Homo sapiens: one gene and its partners. The main gene of each other region encodes a partner of the protein of the gene in region 2 in a complex. Each region holds a gene or a part of one and is shown on either strand. Other genes may lie near its edges.

Evidence for each region. The genes of interacting proteins can lie anywhere in the genome.
Region 1: SNRNP40 (region 2) and SRRM1 share a complex: the UniProt entries of both Homo sapiens proteins name them as parts of the minor spliceosome.
Region 3: SNRNP40 (region 2) and USP39 share a complex: the UniProt entries of both Homo sapiens proteins name them as parts of the U4/U6-U5 tri-snRNP complex.

What each region holds. Positions count from the first base shown.
Region 1 is NC_000001.11:24,660,283-24,667,309, forward strand, and holds part of SRRM1 (serine/arginine repetitive matrix protein 1), read left to right. Parts: intron 1-436; coding exon 437-517; intron 518-1,027; coding exon 1,028-1,114; intron 1,115-2,377; coding exon 2,378-2,522; intron 2,523-2,900; coding exon of another isoform or gene 2,901-2,942; intron 2,943-6,532; coding exon 6,533-6,643; intron 6,644-6,700; exon of another isoform or gene 6,701-6,805; intron 6,806-7,027. UniProt on the Homo sapiens protein: Part of pre- and post-splicing multiprotein mRNP complexes. As a component of the minor spliceosome, involved in the splicing of U12-type introns in pre-mRNAs. Involved in numerous pre-mRNA processing events.
Region 2 is NC_000001.11:31,286,789-31,293,815, reverse strand, and holds part of SNRNP40 (U5 small nuclear ribonucleoprotein 40 kDa protein), read left to right. Parts: intron 1-467; coding exon 468-597; intron 598-1,809; coding exon 1,810-1,903; intron 1,904-4,396; coding exon 4,397-4,562; intron 4,563-7,027. UniProt on the Homo sapiens protein: Required for pre-mRNA splicing as component of the activated spliceosome. Component of the U5 small nuclear ribonucleoprotein (snRNP) complex and the U4/U6-U5 tri-snRNP complex, building blocks of the spliceosome.
Region 3 is NC_000002.12:85,633,167-85,640,193, forward strand, and holds part of USP39 (ubiquitin carboxyl-terminal hydrolase 39), read left to right. Parts: intron 1-2,886; coding exon 2,887-2,964; intron 2,965-4,202; coding exon 4,203-4,270; intron 4,271-6,036; coding exon 6,037-6,225; intron 6,226-7,027.

The DNA.
Region 1 (7,027 bases), 6.6 Mb from region 2:
CTCCCAATTTCCTTTAACTGTTGGTTTTCTTGGGAGAATCTCAAGATTTGAAAATCATTGTAGAACTTTTTGAGGCTTTTCATTAAACATTTAAAAATTCTTGTCTCACTTCAGATAATGTTCAGATATGACAACAAGGTCTTACAGGAATTTTTTAAGTCTTCATAAATTCTTTTTGAGAGTAGTCACACCCATTTTTGTAATAGCAGGAAGGCATCTTGGCTGGGCACAGTGGCTTGTGCCTGTAATCCCAACACTTTGGGAGGCTCAGGCAGGAGGATTGCTTGAGGTCAGGAGTTCAAGACTAGCCTGACTAATATAGTGAGACCCCATCTTTATTTAAAAATAATAATAAATTTTTAAAAATTAAAAGAAAAGCATCTTGTATAGACCTTTTTTTGTACGTAAGCTTTTTTCCACTCTTATTCTTTTTTAGTGACAAAACATAAAGGTACTGAGAAAAGAGAATCCCCTTCACCAGCACCGAAGCCTAGAAAAGTAGAGTTATCTGAATCGGGTAAGTTTGTTGTTTTTTTTTGTGATTTTGGTTTGTTTGTTTTTGTTTTTCTTAAAGCTGATTTTGATTTTTTGCACATTTGGTCATCCCCTTCTGCTTGAAGATTAAGTATAGGGTAAGAGCTAAGACTCTGAAGGCAGACAGACTTGGGTGGAATCCCCCATTCCAGAATTTAACTGTTTCTGTTTTAATTAACTTATCTGAGCCTTTCTTCTTTCATCTCCGAAATAGGGACAGTAGAGGTTTTTGACAGTTAACTGTATCTGCTTGTAAAATGCTTGGCACCAGCCTGACCTGTAGTAAATGCCTAAATAAATTTTATTATATTTGGTGAAGATAGTCTAAATCAGCCTGTGAATTGGCATTTTAAACTCTTTTTAAAAAAAATATATAGTAGTTGTATTTTTGATCCAACCAAATGAAGGTTTGAGAGACTATTTTCCTATTCAAATTGCAAATTTTCTATATGCTTAACTAAAGAAACACTTTCTAAATGCATCCATCTTTCAGAAGAAGATAAAGGTGGCAAAATGGCTGCAGCAGATTCTGTGCAGCAGAGACGCCAATACAGACGACAAAACCAGCAGTCTTCATCTGGTATGGATGGTGATGAAAGTTTTTTTTCTACCTGTATTTCCTATTAAAAAATACTTGGTATATAAACATCTGTGTGTGCAGCATGAGTACTTACTTGCCTACATAGAAATCTGTCTGAGGAGGCAGGATTGTTTCTTTTTTTGGTTTTAAGTCCTTTTGCAAAATTTAATTTTCTGTTACATTGTTATAAAAGTAATAGGTCCCTAGGATACAATAGTGAAACAGAAAACAGAAGTATAAAATTGGAAACGTATCATTCTTTTTCCAACCTCCTAAAGCTTTTATTCAGAAATTTTCTGTGCATATAGAAAAAGGAAAAGAAAAAACCCCACAGAAGCTCAACTGTAGATATGTTGCCTCACTTTTTAACTTAACAGTATATTTAGAACATCTTTCCCTATTAAAAATCTAGACTGGGCGCAGTGGCTCACACCTGTAGTCCCAGCACTTTGGGAGGCCGAGGTGAGCAGGCCGAGATCAGGAGTTCAAGACCATCCTGGCCAATAGGGCGAAACCCCATCTCTACGAAAAATACAAAAATTAACCGGGCATAGTGGCGCACACCTGTAATCCCAGTTACTTGGGAGGCCCAGGCAGGAGAATCCCTTGAACCCAGGAGGCAGAGGTTGCAGTGAGTGAGCTGAGATCGCGCCACTGCACTCCAGCCTGGGAGCCTGGGCAACAGAGCAAGGCTTTGTTTCCACAAAAAAAATAATAATAATCTACCCTATTATTTTACTATTTGCATTTTTTATTGTAAGAATATACCAGGCTGGGTATGGTGGCTTAACCTGTAACCCCAACACTTTGGGAGGCTGAGGTAGATGGATCACTTGAGGTCAGGAGTTCGAGACCAGCCTGGCCAACATGGCAAAACCTTGTCTCAACTAAAAATACAAAGATTAGTTAGGCATGATGGTGCAGACCTGTAATCCCAGCTACTCAGGAGGCACAAGCGGTCTTTCTGCCTTGGCCTCCCAAATGCTGGGGTTAAAGGGGTGAGCCACCGTGCCCAGCTCAAACTTCTTAGAGTATGCCATCTTGATTGGATTACACTGTGGAAATTATTTCTATGTCTTATTTAAATAATATGCTTGGCTTTGAAATCATTGATCATATATTGATAATGATTCTGTTCAGAACTGATGGCCTGTATACATGCTTGCTTACCCTAGTGAACACTCCATCCACCTAGATTTCAGAAAACTTGGACAGATTCAAGCACAAACCTAATGTAATATTTTTTTAATTTTGTAATTATAGACTCTGGCTCCTCCTCCTCCTCAGAAGATGAACGACCCAAGAGATCCCATGTGAAGAATGGTGAGGTTGGCAGGCGGCGGAGACATTCCCCTTCCCGGAGTGCTTCTCCATCACCACGAAAGCGCCAAAAAGAGACTTCCCCTCGGTAACATCTTTGCTTCAGTGATGTTCACTGATGTTCTGTAATTGTGATGAAATTTGATAACTTGGGATTATTTGAGAATTTGGTTAACTCCTTCAAGTATTTGGATGTGGTTGGATTTTTGTTTGCTTTTTAGGGTTTCTGTTTTGTTTTGTTTTTGCTTTATTGGTGGTTATTAATAATTAATTTAGAATTGGTAAATTTTAAACCACCATGTCATATATGTGTGCATGATTAGAAAAATAAACCAAACTATTATAGCAGTAACTCCTGAACATCTTTGAATATTTAAAAATGTCTCCATTAATGGTACTTAATCCACCCAAGTAAATAATTTAGTGAATGGAATTCTTGACATTTGTTTTTCTCCACTGCTCTCAGGATGCAGATGGGAAAGCGATGGCAATCGCCAGTGACTAAAAGGTTGGTTAGACACTACTTTGTAAATTAGGGTTACATGTCAAAAATTGTAGTGACTTAATTTCCTATTTAGGTGACCTCATCTCATTCTTAAATATATGGTGGCTGTGGCTGTGAATGTGCAGATCCTAAGTTGTTTTGGTTTGAGTATTTTTTTTAACACATTAGATTAATGATAGGGAGAATTATACATGAGCTATTTGGTTTAGACCCTTATTTGAACTTAGATTTTTAATATCTGGTTGTGCTCTTTTGTGATAATTTGCATCAACTTACATCAAGCAGCACGCAGATTTTTAACAGTATCTGGATACTTTTCCAGAGATAGGATTATTGCTCCTTAGATTTGGGGGGAGGGACTTTGTATTTGTGGTGACATTAGGGAGGGCAAGGAAAAACTAGGGAGAAACTTTAGAAATATTAAAAGTGAGAGGATCACGAGGTCAGGAGATCAAGACCATCCTGGCCAACATGGTGAAACCCCATTTCTACTAAAAATACAAAAATTAGCTGGGAGTGTTGGCGCGTGCCTGTAATCCCAGCTACTCGGAAGGCTGAGGCAGGAGAATCGCTTGAACCCAGGAGGCGGAGGTTGCAATGAGCTGAGATCACGCCACTGTACTCCAGCCTGGCAACAGAGCTAAATTCCCTCTCAAAAATAATAATAATAATAATAATAATAATAATAATAATAAATAAAAGCGAATGGAAGGCTTTGGCCCTGTTCAGTCTTTCCAGTACTAGAAAGGTGGGTTGCATAGCTCTCTTTTTTTTTTTTTTTTTTTTTTTGTTGAGATGGAGTCTGGCTCTATCACCCAGGCTGGGGTGCATTGGTGCGACCTCGGCTCACTGCAACTTCTGCTTTGTAGGTTCAAACGATTCTCCTGCCTCAGCCTCCTGAGTAGCTGGGACTACAGGCACATGCCACCATGCCCAGCTAATTTTTGTATTTTTAGTAGAGAAGGGATTTCGCCATGTTGGCCAGGATGGTCTCAAACTCCTAAAGTCAGGTGATCCACCCGCCTCGGCCTCCCAAAGTGTTGGGATTACAGGCATGAGCCACTGGGCCCGACCTGCATATCTTTATTGAAACTTTTGATTATTAGTGTCACTGTGACCATAAAACTGTAAAATTTTAGAGCCAAATCCCTAATTCAGGCCTTACTCTCATAAGTGAGAAGATAGCGGCCCTGATGGGGTAGTTTCTTAGGGCCGCAAAGTGACAAAGTTGGATCTTAGACCTATACATTTGGCATTACACTAGTCTGTCTTAACCAGCTTTCTGCTTTTGGGGCCTTAGCTGCCACTGAATTTTGAAGTATTTATCCTTGCTGAAGCTATCCCACTGTCCTTTTTGTAGCTCAGTTTTTGAAGCTGTGTTGTTTTAGGTAATCTCATCAATAAGAGTGTTTTCTTGGAAAGGAACCAGTGAGCAGTGTTTGTGATGGAGCAAAGCACGGGGTATTTACACTGTGGAGGAAACTGCTCCATGATAATAAAAGATAAAAACCTAAAAAAGATTAGTTTGGCTGCTAAAGCATTCCTTTCCCAGCTATAATTATCTCTGGCTTTTGTGAAGTTGCTAGCACAGCAACTAAACAATTGCTTTACAGAGTTAGATTAGTGGTGCAATTTCTTCTCTTTCATCTCCCCTTCCCTCCCCACCCCCCCACCAAATTATGGCACTACTTTCTGTTCTGGAAAGAGATTCCTCACAGCAGTAAAATCAACACTAATGTTTATTGCTCTACTCCAGGATGTTTTTGTTTTGTTTCTCGTCATTTAAAAAGTATTTTAAGTTATATACCAGCAGCTTCAAGTTTAATGCCATTAGAAATTGCCATCAGGTTCCTAGGATTTAGAGATGGAGGAAGGATTATTTGGAATTATGCTTCAGTATCGTATTTTAGAAGGGGAGATAGAGGCCGGGTGCGGTGGCTCATGCCTGTAATCTCAGCACTTTGGGAGGCTGAGTTGGGTGGATCACCTGAGATCAGACGTTTGAGACCAGCCTGGCCAACACGACGGAACCCCATCTCTACTAAAAATACAAAAAAGTTAGCCGGGCGTGGTGGCGCATGCCTGTAGTCCCAGCTACTCGGGAGGCTCAGGCAGGAGAATCGTTTGAATCCGGGAGGTGGAGGTTGCAGTGAGCCGATATCGTGCCATTGCACTCCAGCCTGGGCAACAAGAGCAAAACTCCGTCTCAAAAAAAAAAAAAGAGGCTCACGCCTGTAATCCCAGCACTTTGGGAGGCCGAGGCGGGTGGTTCACGAGGTCAGGAGATAAAGACCATCCTGGCTAACACGGTGAAACCCCGTCTCTACTAAAAATACAAAAAATTAGCTGGGTGTGGTGGCGGGCACCTGTAGTCCCAGCTACTTGGGAGGCTGAGGCAGGAGAATGGTGTGAACCCAGGAGGCAGAGCTTGCAGTAAGCCCAGATCGTGCCAGTGCACTCCAGCCTGGGCAACAGAGCGAGACTCTGTCTCAAGAAAAGAAGGGGAGATAGAGCCTGGTTTTGAATATTTTATATGTATTTAGTGTGAGGTCTTAGTCCCCACAAAGCATAAGCAGATTTAAGTTGAAAAATTTAGTGGTGACTTTTAGGATTTTGTCTGTTCAGTTAACAGAGATTTCTTAGTTTCTAACGGGAACCAAGACAAAACATAATTCCAGATTCACAGGAAGCATGAGTCCTGTCCTGGGCAAAAAAAATTAAGAGCTTGGAGCAGAGACGTCCAGACTTGGGTCTTAAGCCACTTGTGACTATTGGCATTTTTGAATTTCTGTATTAGAGTCTCTAAAGCAGTTGATTCCTAATAAGGAATTAGAATCACCTGGAGAGCCTTTCCCAAAAACACCTGGCTGGACCTTAGCCCAGACCTGGTAGGCATAAATCTCACATAAGCTTCCTAGGTGGTTCTAATGTGCATCCCCAATAAAAAGCAGTGCTCTTATGTGCTGTTGCCGAACTTTTTCACTCTGTGTCATGTCAAGAATGTTTGGTATTGTGATCCAGAGTAAAAGAAAAATTTCACAAAACGGTACTTACCCTTGTCACAAGTAAAACACTCTGGTTTTATTAAGTTTTTTAATGCTGCCACCCAGGGTCTTGACTGATGATCTTGACCTGTAGTTTGAAAAACACTGTTCTGAAACTTAGTAACCATTGCTGCCCTTGGGGTTAATGATAATTGAAACCGTGTCTTCTGGGTCACTTAACTATAAATGCCACTGACTCAAAGTTAACTATATAGGCCAGGCGTGGTAACTCACACCTATAATCCCAGCACTTTGGGAGGCTGAGGCAGGCAGATCACCTGAGGTCAGGAGTTCAAGACCAGCTTGGCCAACATGGTGAAACTCCGTCTCTACAAAAATATTTTAAAAAATTAGCCAGGCATGATTATGGGTGCCTGTAATCCCAACTACTCAGGAGGCTGAGGGGGGAGAATTGCTTGAACCTGGGAGGCGGAGGTTGCAGTGAGCCAAGATCATGCCATTGCACTCCAGCCTGGGCGACAGAGTGAGACGCCATCACACACACACAAAAAAAAGAAAAAAAATTAACTATAATTCTTCTTGGTTTAGTGGTAGACGGAGGAGAAGTCCATCCCCACCACCCACCAGAAGGCGACGGTCTCCTTCTCCCGCCCCTCCTCCTCGACGGCGCAGGACTCCCACACCACCACCACGACGAAGGTACTTTGTCAAATATGCTAACTGGAGCATCTCCCCAACTCCCCCCGCCCCTGATAACATCAGATGAGTAATGGTGCTCACTTCCTAACAAGGTTGGAGAGAGGCACAGCTCATGTGTGCATGTGAAAACCCAATCATCATGCTTATGAACTACAAAAGGATCTCTGAATCTTTCTGATGATTATATCTTATTAGAGTAAGCAGACTAGCATTGTTCAGCCAGTCATAAAAGAACACGTATGATTCCATCTATATGAAAAGTCTAGAATACACAAATCTATAGAGATAGAAAACAGATTAGGGTGGGGTGGACATGGGGATGGTAATAGCTGCAGAACTATATGAATATACTAAAATCATTTAATTGTATACTTTAAATGGACC
Region 2 (7,027 bases):
GAGGCCAGGATTTTGAGACCAGCCTAGGCAACGTAGCAAGACCTCATCTCCACAAAAACTAAAAAAATTAGCATGGCATGCTAGTTCATGCCTGTAGTCCTGGCTACTCAGGAGGCTGAGGCAGGAGGATCACTTGAGCCAAGGAGTTTGAAGCTGCAGTGAACCATGATCACACTACTGCAGTCCAGCCTAGGTGACAGAGTGAGACCCTATCTCCAAAAAAAAGTTGGTCGTACAACAAGAGCTGAGAGAGTGAACAAGAGAGTCATTATAACAGGTAGATAATGGAAAGTTTCAGAGAGTGTCAAGTTGGAGGCATTCATATGAGAAGAGCTACCATTCTGTAAGTCAGATGAAACCCACTTAATCATTGTTTTCTTGGTCTTTTCCCTCCACTCCCCACCCCCTAATTTTGTAGCCTCCTTTGTCTGTATGCAGTAGTTACCTTGTGCTTCTCTTTTGTTTAGGGACCTCCAAGATGTTCCTCCCTTCAAGCCCCAATCATGCTGCTCTCTGGACATGAAGGGGAAGTCTACTGCTGCAAGTTCCACCCCAACGGATCCACCTTAGCATCTGCAGGATTTGACCGACTGATATGTGAGGCATAGTTTTTGAATCTGGAATAATTTTTCCTGCCAGATAGTGATTTTTTTTTTTAAATCTTGGGTGCCACAGAAGGTATCACTCTATGTTGGCAACATAACAGGCTGCATGGCTAATATGCTAAAATTGGGGCATGAACATGCTGAATGATCTTGGGTGTAGAACTTGGAGTCCATGGGGTAAATACAGAAGCCATTATTTTACTAGTTGGAAAGTGAGTTGTTCTGGTTTGAGAATGTCTTCCTCATAGAGGCAAATCTCCAGCTAATTTACCAAGGCACTTAGCAATCTAGACATAACAGGTTAATGGCAGTAATGAGGAGAGAAATAACTTTTATTTTCCCAAAGGTATAAGGTCCTCTTAATTCACACCCAGAATCCTAGCTAGCATATGGGAAGGAAGGAATCCTAAAGTGGTAACTCCCTTAAATAATCTACCTGTACATCATTAGGATCTACTACCAGATTTCCATTTTTGAGAAATAAGAATTTCTCATACCCATTTTTGAGAAGTAAGTAGAAAAAGTCGTTTTATTTATACTCCAGCAAATGAAGCCAGAAGGAAAAAAAATCAGATGCTTCTGTTGCTACTTTCTTGCCAGATTATGAGATGAAATGAGTTATTTGGCTCTTTTCTGTTAACTCTTTTCCTCGGTGCCGGGTGGATGATACCCGTCTTCACTGCCCATTTTGATTTGGATGTTCCGGCTCTATGATCCTTAAGCTTACTAGTGGCCAAACGTCTGGATTGCTTAGGGATCTTTGCAGAACATATATGAATTATTGATAGGCTTAATTTCATCAGACAAACTACATAGTTTTTTTTGTTTGGTTGGTCGGTTGGCTTTTTAGAGACGGAGTCTCACTCTGTCACCCAGGTTGGAGTGCCGTGGCGCGATCTCGGCTCACTGCATCCTCCGTCTCCTGGGTTCAAGTGATTCTCCTGCCTCAGTCTCCCAAGAGCTGGGATTGTAGGCGTCTGCCACTACACCTGGCTGATTTTTTTATTTTTATTAAAGATGGGGTTTCGCCGTATCAGCCACGCTGGTCTCGAACTCCTGACCTCAAGTGATCCACCCGTCTCGGCCTCCCAAAGTGCTGGGATTACAGGTGTGAGCCACCGTGCCTGACCTGAGAACTGTTGTTCTGATAAATTTATAAGTACCCTTTGCCTAGTAATGCTCACAGAACCCATCTCCCTAACAGTACTGTGGAATGTCTATGGTGACTGTGATAACTATGCCACACTGAAGGGACACAGTGGAGCAGTGATGGAATTGCATTACAACACAGATGGCAGGTGAGTATTCTGCATAATGGAAGGACAGCTTCTCATACTAATTCTTGGCGTCCTTTCACCTTTCATCCTTTCTCAGGAGACCCTGCTATCAAAAACTACTAATTTTGGGTAGCTACTTTAGTATCCGATTTATCACTGTCACCCCAAGTGAGGTGTTTATAGTCTGTGTATGCAAATATAAAGATGTTACATCGGTCATTTCAACAACCCAGACAAATTTTTCTTTTTTTAAGACATAAAATAAATGTGATTTTTATATGTAGGCTGGAGTGCAGTGACACAAACATGGCTCACTGCAGCCTCAACCTCTTGCTCGAGGGATCCTCCCACTTCAGCCTCCCAAATAGCTGGGGCCACAAGCCCACGCCTCCATGCCCAGCTAATTTTTAAAAATCATTTGTGGAGACATGGTCTTGCTATATTGCTCCTGAGCTCAAGCAGTCCACCTGCCTCAGCCTCCCAAAAATGCTGTGATTACAATAATTAACCACCATGCCTGGCCTGAAATCAGCTATTTCTATTATAAAAATCATTTCTTTTGAGAAACCAAAAAAAGCAGAAAGATGAAAAAATAGTCTATATTTCTACCACTCCAAAGATAATCAGTGTTAATTTTTTTTTTTTGAGACGGAATTTCACTCTTGTTGCCCAGGCTGGAGTGCAATGGCACGATCTCGGCTCACTGCAACCTCCGCCTCCCAGGTTCACGTGTTTCTCTTGCCTCAGCCTCCAGAATAGCTGGGATTACAGGGATGCATCACCGTGCCTGGCTAATTTTGTATTTTTTGTAGAGACTGGGTTTCTCCATGTTGGTCAGGCTGGTCTTGAACTCCCAACCGCAGGTGATCCGCCCACCTCAGCCTCCCAAAGTGCTGGGATTACAGGCATGAGCCACCGTGCCTGGCCAATCACTGTTAATTTTATACATTTTTCTAATGCCTTTTTTTCTACTCAGAACTGTTTAGTTGTTGCATATTTGTTAGAACTATGTGTACAATCTTTTTTATTTATTTATTTATTTTATTTTATTTTTTTGAGACGGAGTCTTGCTCTGTCGCCCAGTCTGGAGTGCAGTGGTGCGATCTCGGCTCACTGCAAGCTCCGTCTCCGGGGTTCACACCATTCTCCTGCCTCAGCCTCCTGAGTAGCTGGGATTACAGGTGCCCGCCACCATGCCCGGCTAATTTTTTTGTATTTTTAATAGAGATGGGGTTTCACCGTGTTAGCCAGGATGGTCTCGATCTCCTGACCTTGTGATCCGCCCGCCTTGGCCTCCCAAAATGCTGGGATTACAAGTGTGAGCCACCGCACCTGGCCAGAACTGTGTGTACAATCTTATTTGCTCCTTTTTTCTCTTAACATTGCTCAGCCAACATCTGATGTCATAAACGTCATTTTAATGACTATATTATTTTAGAATATATTATAGATAATATAGAAATCTGGCTATACAAAAGTAATTACATTGTTAGGTAGTCTGGTAAACATTCATTGTTTTACATTTCTGACCTCTAAAATCTTAGGGTGCTCCATCAATTGATACATAGCATTGTATACATTTTAAATAAAGCATTAGAAAGCTGGGCCTGGTGGCATGTGCTTATAATCCCAGCTATTTGGGAGGCTGAGGCAGGAGGATTCCTGGAGCCCAAGAGTTCAAAACCAGCCTGGGCAACACAGTGAGACTCCATCTCAAAAAAAATGAAAAAAGAAAGCATTATAAGATCAGTTATAACTTAGAAATCATCCTCAGAGGCTGGGCGTGGTTGCTTACGCCTATAACCCTAGCACTGTAGGAGGCTGAGGCAGGAAGATTGCTTGAGCCCAGTTCAAGACCAGCCTGGGCAACATAGTGAGACCTTGCCTCTACAAATGATTTTTAAAAATTAACTGAGCATGGTGGCACAGACCTGTGGTCCCAGCTACTCAGGAGGCTGAGGTGGGAGGATCACTTGAGCCCAGGAGGTCGAGGCTGCAGTGAGCCATGATTCCAACCCGGGTGACAGAGCAAGATCTCATCTCAAAAAAAAAATGAAAGAAAGAAATTGTCCTCAGAGACAAAAGAAAAACTTTGGTAAAGAGAAAAGATTGGAGTCACTCAGCTGTCAGGTCGGTACCACAGTCTGTCTGATCTCTGCAGCACCAGGGAGTTATTAAACATTTCCAAGTGAGAGGGTGTCTTATGTTTAAAATGTTAGCTATCACAAAAGAGGAAAAGATAGAGCAAACTGCTACATTAGATGTATGTCATGGGGACTCAAAGAAGGGGAATTTTTTAAACTTCACAGGGGTAGATCTTTTATCTGGGCCATCTGGGCCTAGAGGACAAATAGGATTTTGGTAGGGTGAGGCATTCCAGCATCATGGGCAAACTGGCGTAGCACAGCAGGTCAGTGATCTTGAAAAATTTGGCACCTTTTGTCAAGTAGGAAAGATAGATTGTTACTGTTTATCTTCACTTATTTCTTTTTTATTCTTTCTCTTACTTTCTAGTATGCTTTTCTCAGCATCCACAGATAAAACCGTGGCTGTGTGGGATAGTGAAACAGGTGAGAGGGTTAAAAGGCTAAAGGGACATACTTCCTTTGTGAATTCCTGTTATCCAGCCAGGAGAGGCCCTCAGCTTGTCTGCACTGGCAGTGACGATGGCACAGTTAAGGTGGGTATTGTCTCTCCGTGTTCCAGTTTCTGAGGTGATGTGATGTGAACCTTATCTTGCCTTGCCACTTGTACTCTAGCTTCCTGTGCAAAACTTAATTTTAGCAGTCATCTCCCATAACACACTTGAAATTTTTCCCCATTTAAAATAAAACATTTAATACAAGTTTTAATTACCCTACAGAATAATAATAGAACCATAGAATAAATTGTTACTTGAAATAGGCCGGGTGCTGTGGCTTACGCCTGTAATCCCAGCACTTTGGGAGGCCGAGGCGGGTGGATCACGAGGTCAAGAGATCAAGACCATCCTGGCTAACACGGTGAAACCCCGTCTCTACTAAAAATACAAAAAATAAGCCGGGCGTGATGGCGGGCACCTGTAGTTCCAGTTGCTTGGGAGGCTGAGGCAGGAGAATGGTGTGCACCCGGGAGGTGGAGCTTGCAGAGATTGCACCACTGCACTCCAGCCTGGGCGACAGAGCGAGACTCTGTCTCAAAAAAAAGAACTGTGACAGTAATATACGTGTCTTTCAAGGCTGTTATGAGTATCTCCACCAACAGGGAGGTAGCAAAAAAAAAAAAAAGGCTGTTCTGAGATTATAGACAATATATAAAAAGTTCAGTGAATAGTTTTAGTATGGCACAAGATGGGAACTTAAACATCGTTTAGTCAGATGGTTGCCAGCCTATCTTTATATCATCATCACCTGAAGAACCTGTTAAAAATACCCAAAGAATCTGGTTCAGTGGATCTGCAATGGGAATCAGATATTTTAATGTGTCCTTCAAGTGATTCAGTGTAGCCAGTCTCACATTCTGGGAGCCACTGATCTCACTGAGCATCCTCATTTTATAAATAAGGAAACTGAGGCCTAGAAATAATAATTTATCTCAGAGGCACACAAGGACACAGTACATCATAGTACCAACCATTTGATTCTCTCTTTGACACGAATTTTGGGCTCTGGTTTATATTTTAATTGTTAAACAGTGAGGGACTTCAAAAGAGTACATCTGGGAAACTACACCCCCATACTTCTTATTGCTTTTTAAATGAATTAATGAATTTGCTTTTTTTTTTTTTTCTTTGAGACAGGGTCTTGCTCTATCGCCCAGGCTGGAGTGCAGTGGCACAATCTTGGCTCACTGTAGCCTCCACCTCCCGGGTTCAAGTGATTCCCCAGCCTCAGCCTCTTGAGTAGCTGGGATTACAGGTGCACACCACCATACCTGCCTAATTTTTCTATTTTTGGTAGAGATGGGGTTTCACCATGTTGCCCAGGCTGGAGTGCAGTGGCGCAATCTCAGCTCACTGCAACCTCTACCTCCTGGGTTCAAGCAGTTCCCCTGCCTCAGCCTCCCTAGTAGCTGGGACTACAGGGACCCATACCACGCCCAGCTAGTTTTTGTATTTTCAGTAGAGGCAGGGGTTCATCATATTGGCCAGGCTGGTCTCAAACTCCTGACCTTGTGATCCGCCCCCCTCGGCCTCCCAAAGTGCTGGGATTACAGGCGTGAGCCACCACACTTGGCTGAGACGTTTTTCTACTGAGTGGTTTTCTTATACCTAATCACTTGGGGCCCCTTGATGGTTGGATGGGAGGAGAGTCTGTTGTTTAAGATTGGTTTCTAAACCAGAGCTCTGACCTAGATGTCACTGTAGTTGGAGAGTCTTAACAGTAGCTGATTTACTAATTGTCATTTCAGAAGATAGTAAGAGGTGGAAATGCCCCAGTGAATTTTGTTAACATTATTATTGAGGGCCTGCTGTAATAAATATCTAGGAACTATTTAGGTAGTAGAAAAAGAGTATATGTCCTTTCTGTCTGCCTTCTTTTGGTTTTTTGCTTCTCTTCTGCCTTAATTAAACATGATTTGGAATAGTTATTTTTACCTTATTACTCAAGTTAATACTTTTTTTAATAAGCAGTATGTCACATCACCTAAAGATGACTGCTTTTTAACCAGCTCCTATTTTTAATGTCAGTATATTTATATTTAAGGCATCATTAAACAGCTTTTTGCAATGTACTTTTCAGTTACTTGTGAAGTTGGAATGCTTTGTGTTCTTGTATTTTTGTTACTAGGTTGCAAGTACAGGAATTGAATAACTTCAGTTTAAGAGGAAAAAAAGTCATGTTGCTTTTTACATGTCAGAGTTCTTAACAGAAAGCAAAGGTTTCCAACAGCACTTGCATTTTTAGTCTAAAAGCATTCTGGGCATTATTCATACAGATCGTTTTCAAACTTTTTATCAAGTGCATTCTTCTAATAAAATTAAGTGAAATACTGCGTGTATGTGTGTATGTACTCATATATATATAAATTTCCCTTTCATGAGCAGTTCAGTCCTAAAGCCAGTTATATAGGCCAAAGCAGGGAAGGTGCTCTAGTTAGAGATGGGCCAAGGTGGCCCAGAGTAGAGTGTCAGAGCACAAGTGTGGTAAGGAGAGCATCCACACT
Region 3 (7,027 bases), on a different chromosome or scaffold from region 2:
CTGGAGTGCAGTGGTGTGATCTCGGCTCACTGCAACCTCTGTCTCCCCAGTTCAAGCTATTCTGCCGCCTCAGCCTCCCGAGTAGCTGGGACTACAGGCACCCACCACCATACCTGGCTAATTTTTTGGTATTTTTAGTAGAGACGGAGTTTCACCACGTTGGTCAGGCTGGTATCGAACTCCTCACCTCAGGTGATCCACCCGCCTCGGCCTCCCAAAGTGCTGGGATTACAGGTGTGAACCACCATGCCCGGCCTCATTGAAGGCTTTTAACAAAGATGTGACATCAGACTTATGAATTTGTTTTTAAAACATTATTCCAGCTGGGCATGGTCACTCAAACCTGTAATCCCACCACTTTGGGAGATCAAGGTGGGTGGATTGCTTGAGCCCAGGAGTTAGAGACCATCCTGCGTGACATAGACCCTATATCTACAAAAAATTTTTAAAAATTACCCAGGCATGGTGGCATGTACCTGTAGTCCAGCTACTTGAGAGGCTGAGGTTGGAGGATCGCTTGGGCCTAGGAGGTAGAGGCTTCAGTGAGCCATGTTGGTCCCACTGTACTCCAGCCTGGACAACAGAGTGAGACCTCTGTCTGTAAAATAAAAAGAAAAACATTATTCTGGCTGAGGATTGACTTAGAGGGGACGTCGAGTAGTGGCTTTTTTTTTTTTTTTTTTTTTTTTGAGACAGAGTCTCGCTCTGTTGCCCAGGCTGGAGTGCAGTGGCGGGATCTCGGCTCACTGCAAGCTCCGCCTCCCGGGTTCACGCCATTCTCCTGCCTCAGCCTCCCAAGTAGCTGGGACTACAGGCGCCCGCCACTACGCCCGGCTAATTTTTTGTATTTTTAGTAGAGACGGGGTTTCACCGTTTTAGCCGGGATGGTCTCGATCTCCTGACCTCGTGATCCGTCCGCCTCGGCCTCCCAAAGTGCTGGGATTACAGGCGTGAGCCACCACGCCCGGCCGAGTAGTGGCTTTTAAGAGTCTCTGGTACTTAAGGAGAAATAGGAGGAATCAAGGTGGTAAGGAATGGGGCCCATGGAGCACTTGTTTCAGGGTTAGTAGGAAATAAGATACACTTCGGGTTGGTTACAACATGGCCAATGAAATCTTAATCTGGGGCCAGGCGCGCTGGCTCATGCCTGTAATCCCAGCACTTTGGGAGGCCGAAGTGGGAGGATTGCTTGAGCCCAAGAGTTCAAGACCAGCTTGAGGAACATAGTGAGACTCCCTCTCGACAAAAAATGTAAAAGTTAGCCGGGCATGATGGCACACGCCTGTAGTCCCAGCTACTTGGGAAACTGAGGTGGAAGGATTCCTTGGGCCTGGGAGGCAGAGCTTGCAGTGAGCTGAAGTTGCATCACTGCACTCCAGCCTGGGTGACAGAGTGAGACGCTGTGTCGCGAAGAAAAAATCTGGGTGCCTCACCCTTCTAAACAGGTGACAGCCTGTTTGTGTGCTTTGTAGGACCATCTAATTCCCAAGAACTAGGTGGCTAGGTTATCTTGTGTTTATAGAGACATTTCTGTTTCTGGACCAACTCCCTGAGCTCCCAGGGTTTTATATTAAGGCTGCAAGAAAGGAAGAAATTTGTGTTGAGAATGATTTTTTTGTGGACCATGAATGGATGGATGAGTGTCAGCATTCACTGTGTTCCACAGGTGACTTATGGCCTGAAGGTGGATAGTGGGGCCTGTCAGCTTTTGGCAGCTTGGAAAGTTAGGGCATAATTGGGTTGTAGAGTTGCAGAAAAACCAGGGTACCCTGAGAATCAACGTGTCTAGTTTCTTCTGTCATAGCCACTATTGGCTAGGATAGTTATGATGTCACATAAACATAATTTCCTCCATCTCTGAGACCTAGTAGGTTATTAGTTGCCGAGTGTTTAGATGTGTGAAGTGTTTCTTGCTGTGGTAGTTTGTTACATAAGAGCATTCTGTGTACAGGGAATAAAAAGAAAATCATTCTATGGAGTTGTTAGAGGCCTCTGGGTTTAGGGAAATGAAGTTGAGGAAGATATACTATAGTCTTTGAGATTTTAATTGCGTGAGCAAAGAGGAACTAAATAGAAGCAAATCTTCGTTGAAGAGAAAGTAGTCATTATCTGGCTGGGCGCAGTGGCTCATGCCTGTAATCCCAGTACTTTGGGAGGCTGAGGCGGGAGGATCACTTGAGGTCAAGAGTTCGAGACCGGCCTGGCCAACATGGTGAAGCCCCGTCTCTACTAAAAATACAAAAATTAGCTGGGCATGGTAGCAGGCACCTGTAATCCCAGCTACTCAGGAGACTGAGGTGGGAGAATCGCTTGAACCCAGGAGGCGGAGGTTGCAGTGAGCTGAGATCATGCCACTGCACTCCAGCCTGGGCGACAGAGTGAGACTCTGTCTCAAAAAAAAAAGTAGCCACTATCCCTGAAATGTCTGAGTGGCAGGTTCCGTAGACAGCATTTTCATGGAATATTGTCAATCTGCTTTCAGAACCCCTTGTTCTGTATGCCTTTTCAGTCTGGGTGCTAGTCACTTTCCTAAAAGACAGGAATCTTCATGAGCTGCAGAAGGGAAGAAGGAAGTTTGAGCTCACTCTGGAGAAAAGTGGATGTTAAAAGGTCATATTCATTTGTTTTGGTCATCACTGAGTGATGCGATACAGTCCTGGTATGAATCAGAGAGCCTATGGAGAGAGTCAAGATCGGAGGAGTGAGAGCTTGACCTTGAGGAGTGCCAGCATTTAATGATAAGATAGAGGAGGATGCACGGCAGTTGGGATGGGATGGCATGGCCAGAGAGGAAGGGGGAGAACCAGGAATGCCAACCAGTGCATGGTTTAAGTTAACTCTAATGCCACTTAGCTTCAACGTTTTCCACCCTTCCTTTTTTTCCAGGAGATGGCGTTGACTTTCTGTCTTGGTTTCTGAATGCTCTGCACTCAGCTCTGGGGGGCACAAAGAAGAAAAAGAAGAGTAAGTCATTTACTTATAAAAAGGAGTTATTTTGTTCCCTTTTAAAAAACTTTGCGGTCGGTCGCAATGGCTCATGCCTATAATCCCAGCTCTTTGAGAGGCCGAGGTGGGTGGATTACCTGAGGTCAGGAGTTTGAGACCGGCCTGGCCAACATGGCGAAACCCCATCTCTACCAAAAATACAAAAGTTATTCAGGTGTGGTGGGATGTGCCTGTAGTCCCAGCGACTTGGGAGGCTGAGGCAACTTCCCATTCTTTTGTTAACTGTTTATCTGGGGTAGGCTAGTATCTATGTTATAGATAAACTACATGTTCTTTCTGAATAGGCCCCTCTCCATAGTTTTTGCTAGAATATGGTTATAGTCCCAATGATATTTTATTATATATATATTTTGAGACAGAGTCTTGCTCTGTCACCTAGGCTATGCAGTGGCACGGTCTCAGCTCACTGTAGCCTCCATCTCCCAGGTTCAAGCAGTTCTTCTCCCTCAGTCTCCCAAGGGTAGCTGGGATTACAGGCACCCACTACCACGCCCAGCTGATTTTTGTATTTTTAGTAGAGATGGGATTTCTCCATGTTGGCCAGGCTGGTCTCAAACTCCTGACCTCAGGTGATCTGCCCAAAGTGCTAGGATTATAGATGTGATGGTGTCTTGATGTGGGATTGTGGCCTGTTGCTTTTCCCACTGGATGGCCCTGCCCTCTCTACCAGGTGTCTTCAGCCTGTGTTAACCCTCTGAGCTCTCTAACTTGCGTCTTGGCAGGGTTCTAGAACTTGGTTGTGCTTTCTCTCTTGTTGCTTTGATCCTGTTCTGGCCCATCTCTTAGTCTGTCATTGTCCTCTTGTCTTCATTACAGTTTGGACATTGTCTCCCTTTGAAAGTAGCTTATGGTTATGGGAAGTTCCTTGGCTGTACCTTGTTTTGCTTGTGAATTTTTTTGTAATTCATGTATCACCATTCCTTCATTTTGAACACATTTACCTTTTCTTTTATGGACCAGGCCCTGTGATGGAGGATAAAAAGTTGTCTTAAGAGAAATAAAGTAATTATTTACACAAATAATTATAAAGGTACCCTGGTGGTATATAGTACAAAAGGAAACTTCTGTGTTTAGTGAGAGCTCTGTGTCTTTTGCTGGAAGATGCTGGTTTATTTCAGAAATTTAGAAGCTGGAAATATACTTCAGACATGTTTTCCATCCTCACGGAATTTGTCTCTTGCTTCCTGTTTGTGCAGCTATTGTGACTGATGTTTTCCAGGGGTCCATGAGGATCTTCACTAAAAAGCTTCCCCATCCTGATCTGGTGAGTTAATTGAGCCTGGGTCTTGGACTGATTCATATTGCTTGAGGGGACGTAGGGGAGATGAAGAGATGCTCAGAGAACTGACAAGCCTGCTTGCCCTGTGAAGAGGTTCAACAAAGCACCTGCCTAGTGGCAGCTCTGCCTGGTCCCTGTCATACTAGTGCACTTTTTCAGTTTGGGAGTTAGTGGTTGGATGTACTGTGCTGGTTTAAGTGTTCTGGCCACTAGGTGGTGCTGCTGTGTTTTTTCAGAAAGCTCAGCTAAGCTTTCTTTTTGTTTTTCTTAGTCTCCCTCTGTCGCCAAGGCTGGAGTTGCAGTGGCGCCATCTCAGCTCACTGCAACCTCTACCTCCTGGGTTCAAGCGATTCTCCTGCCTTAGCCTCCTGAGTGGCTGTGATTACAGGCGCTTGCCACCACGCCCAGCTAATTTTGTATTTTTAGTTGTGACGGGGCTTCACCATGTTGGTCCAGGCTGGTCTCGAACTCCTGACCTCAGGTGATCTACCTGCCTCGGCCTCCCAAAGTGCTGGGATTACAGGCGTGAGTCACCGTGCCTGGCCCTCAGCTAAGCTTCCTAGATGGTCTTAGAGCTTTTCTTTTTTGAGATGGAGTTTTGCTCTTGTTGACCAGTCTGGAGTGCAATGGCATGATCTCAGCTCACTGCAACCTCCACCTCCCAGGTTCAAACCATTCTCCTGCCTCAGCCTCCGAAGTAGCTGGGATTACAGGCATGCGCCACTATGCCTGGCTAATTTTTCTATTTTTAGTAGAGAAGAGGTTTTACCATGTTGGTCAGGATGGTCTCAAACTCCTGACCTTAGGTGATCCACCTCCCTTGGCCTCCCAAAGTGCTGGGATTACAGACATGAGCCACCGTGCTCGGCCCACTTTCTTTTTTTAATGGATTTTTTTTCCTTTTTGAGACAAGATCTCTGTCACTCAGGCTGAGTGTGGTGGCGTGATTATGGTTCACTGCAACCTCAACCTCCCTTGCTGAAGTGATCCTCCCACCTCAACCTCCCCAGAAACTGGGACCATAGATACACACCACCACACCGGGCTAATTTTTATTTTTATTTTTGTTTAATTTAATTAATTAATTAATTTATTTATTTTATTGAGACGGAGTTTCACTCTTGTTGCCCAGGCTGGAGTGCAATGGCACTATCTCGGCTCACCGCAACCTCCGCCTCCCGAGTTCAGGTGATTCTCCTGCCTCAGCCTCCCGAGTAGCTAGGATTACAGGCGCCACCACCACGCCCGGCTTATTTTGTATTTTTAGTAGAGACGGGGTTTCTCCGTGTTGGTCACGTTGGTCTTGGACTCCTGACCTCAGGTGATCTACCTGCCTCGGCCTCCCAAAGTGCTGGGATTACAGGTGTGAGCCATCATGCCCGGCCAATTTTTTTTTTTTTTTGTAGAGATGGAGTCTCACTGTGTTGCCCAGGCTGGTCTGGAAGTCCTGGACTCAAGCAGTCCTCTCACCTTTGTTCCCAAAGTGTTGAGATTACAGCCGTGAGCCATCACACTTGGCCTCAGGGCTTTTTAGATAGTCTGGTATATAAGCAAAATATCTTTAAAGAAGGAAACCTGTTGGTTCTTAAGTTAATCTAACCAGGTGGTGCATGCCAAACTGCCCAATCTCTCGGGCACTTCTCTTTGTTCTTTCAGATGAAGGAAATGTCGGCGTGGTAAAACATCGGTTCTGTGTTGGTTCCTATACCCGTCACACTCCTTTCCTCTCTTTTCTTCTCATTCATTTCTAGCCAGCAGAAGAAAAAGAGCAGTTGCTCCATAATGACGAGTACCAGGAGACAATGGTGGAGTCCACTTTTATGTACCTGACGCTGGACCTTCCTACTGCCCCCCTCTACAAGGACGAGAAGGAGCAGCTCATCATTCCCCAAGTGCCACTCTTCAACATCCTGGCTAAGTTCAATGGCATCACTGAGAAGGTAGCCCATTAACACACCTGCCCTGCCTATACTTACCCTCGCTCTCTCGACTTTTTCATTTTCTTTTTTTTTTTTTTTTCAAGACAGAGTTTTGCTCTTGTCGCCCAGGCTGGAGTGCAGTGGCGTGATTTCGGCTGACTGCAATCTCTACCTCCCAGTTTCAAGCGATTCTCCTGCCTCAGCCTTCCTAGTAGCTGGGATTACAGACATCCGCCACCATGACTGGCTAATTTTTTATATTTTTAGTAGAGACAGCATGTTGGCCAGGTTGGTCTCGAACTCTTGACCTCAAGTGATCAGCCTGCCTCGCCTCCCAAAGTGCTGGGATTACAGGCGTGGGCCACCACACCTGGCCCATTTTCATTTTATATGTAAGAATCACCACATGTATGTGACGTATTTATTATAAATTATATTGACTTTATTGAGCCTCCCAGACTCGTTGGTATTTCTCACTGGTCACCCCCAACTCTTAACTTATAGTGCCCCTTTTTATTATTTTTTGAGACAGGGTCTAGCTTTATCACCTAGTCTGGGTGATCATGGTGGCGTGATCATGGCTCACTGCAGCCTCAAACTCCTGGGCTCAAGTGATCCTCTCACCTCAGCATCCTAAGTAGCTGGGACTAGACACACTCCACCACATCCAACTAAGTATTTTTGTAGAGAGAGTGCTCACTTTGTTGCCCAGGCCATTCTTTAACTCCTGGCCTCAAGGGATCCTCCCACCTCGACCTCCCAAAGTGTTGGGATTACAGATGTGAACCACTGCCCAACCACAGTGCCCCCTCTTGTACTTCTC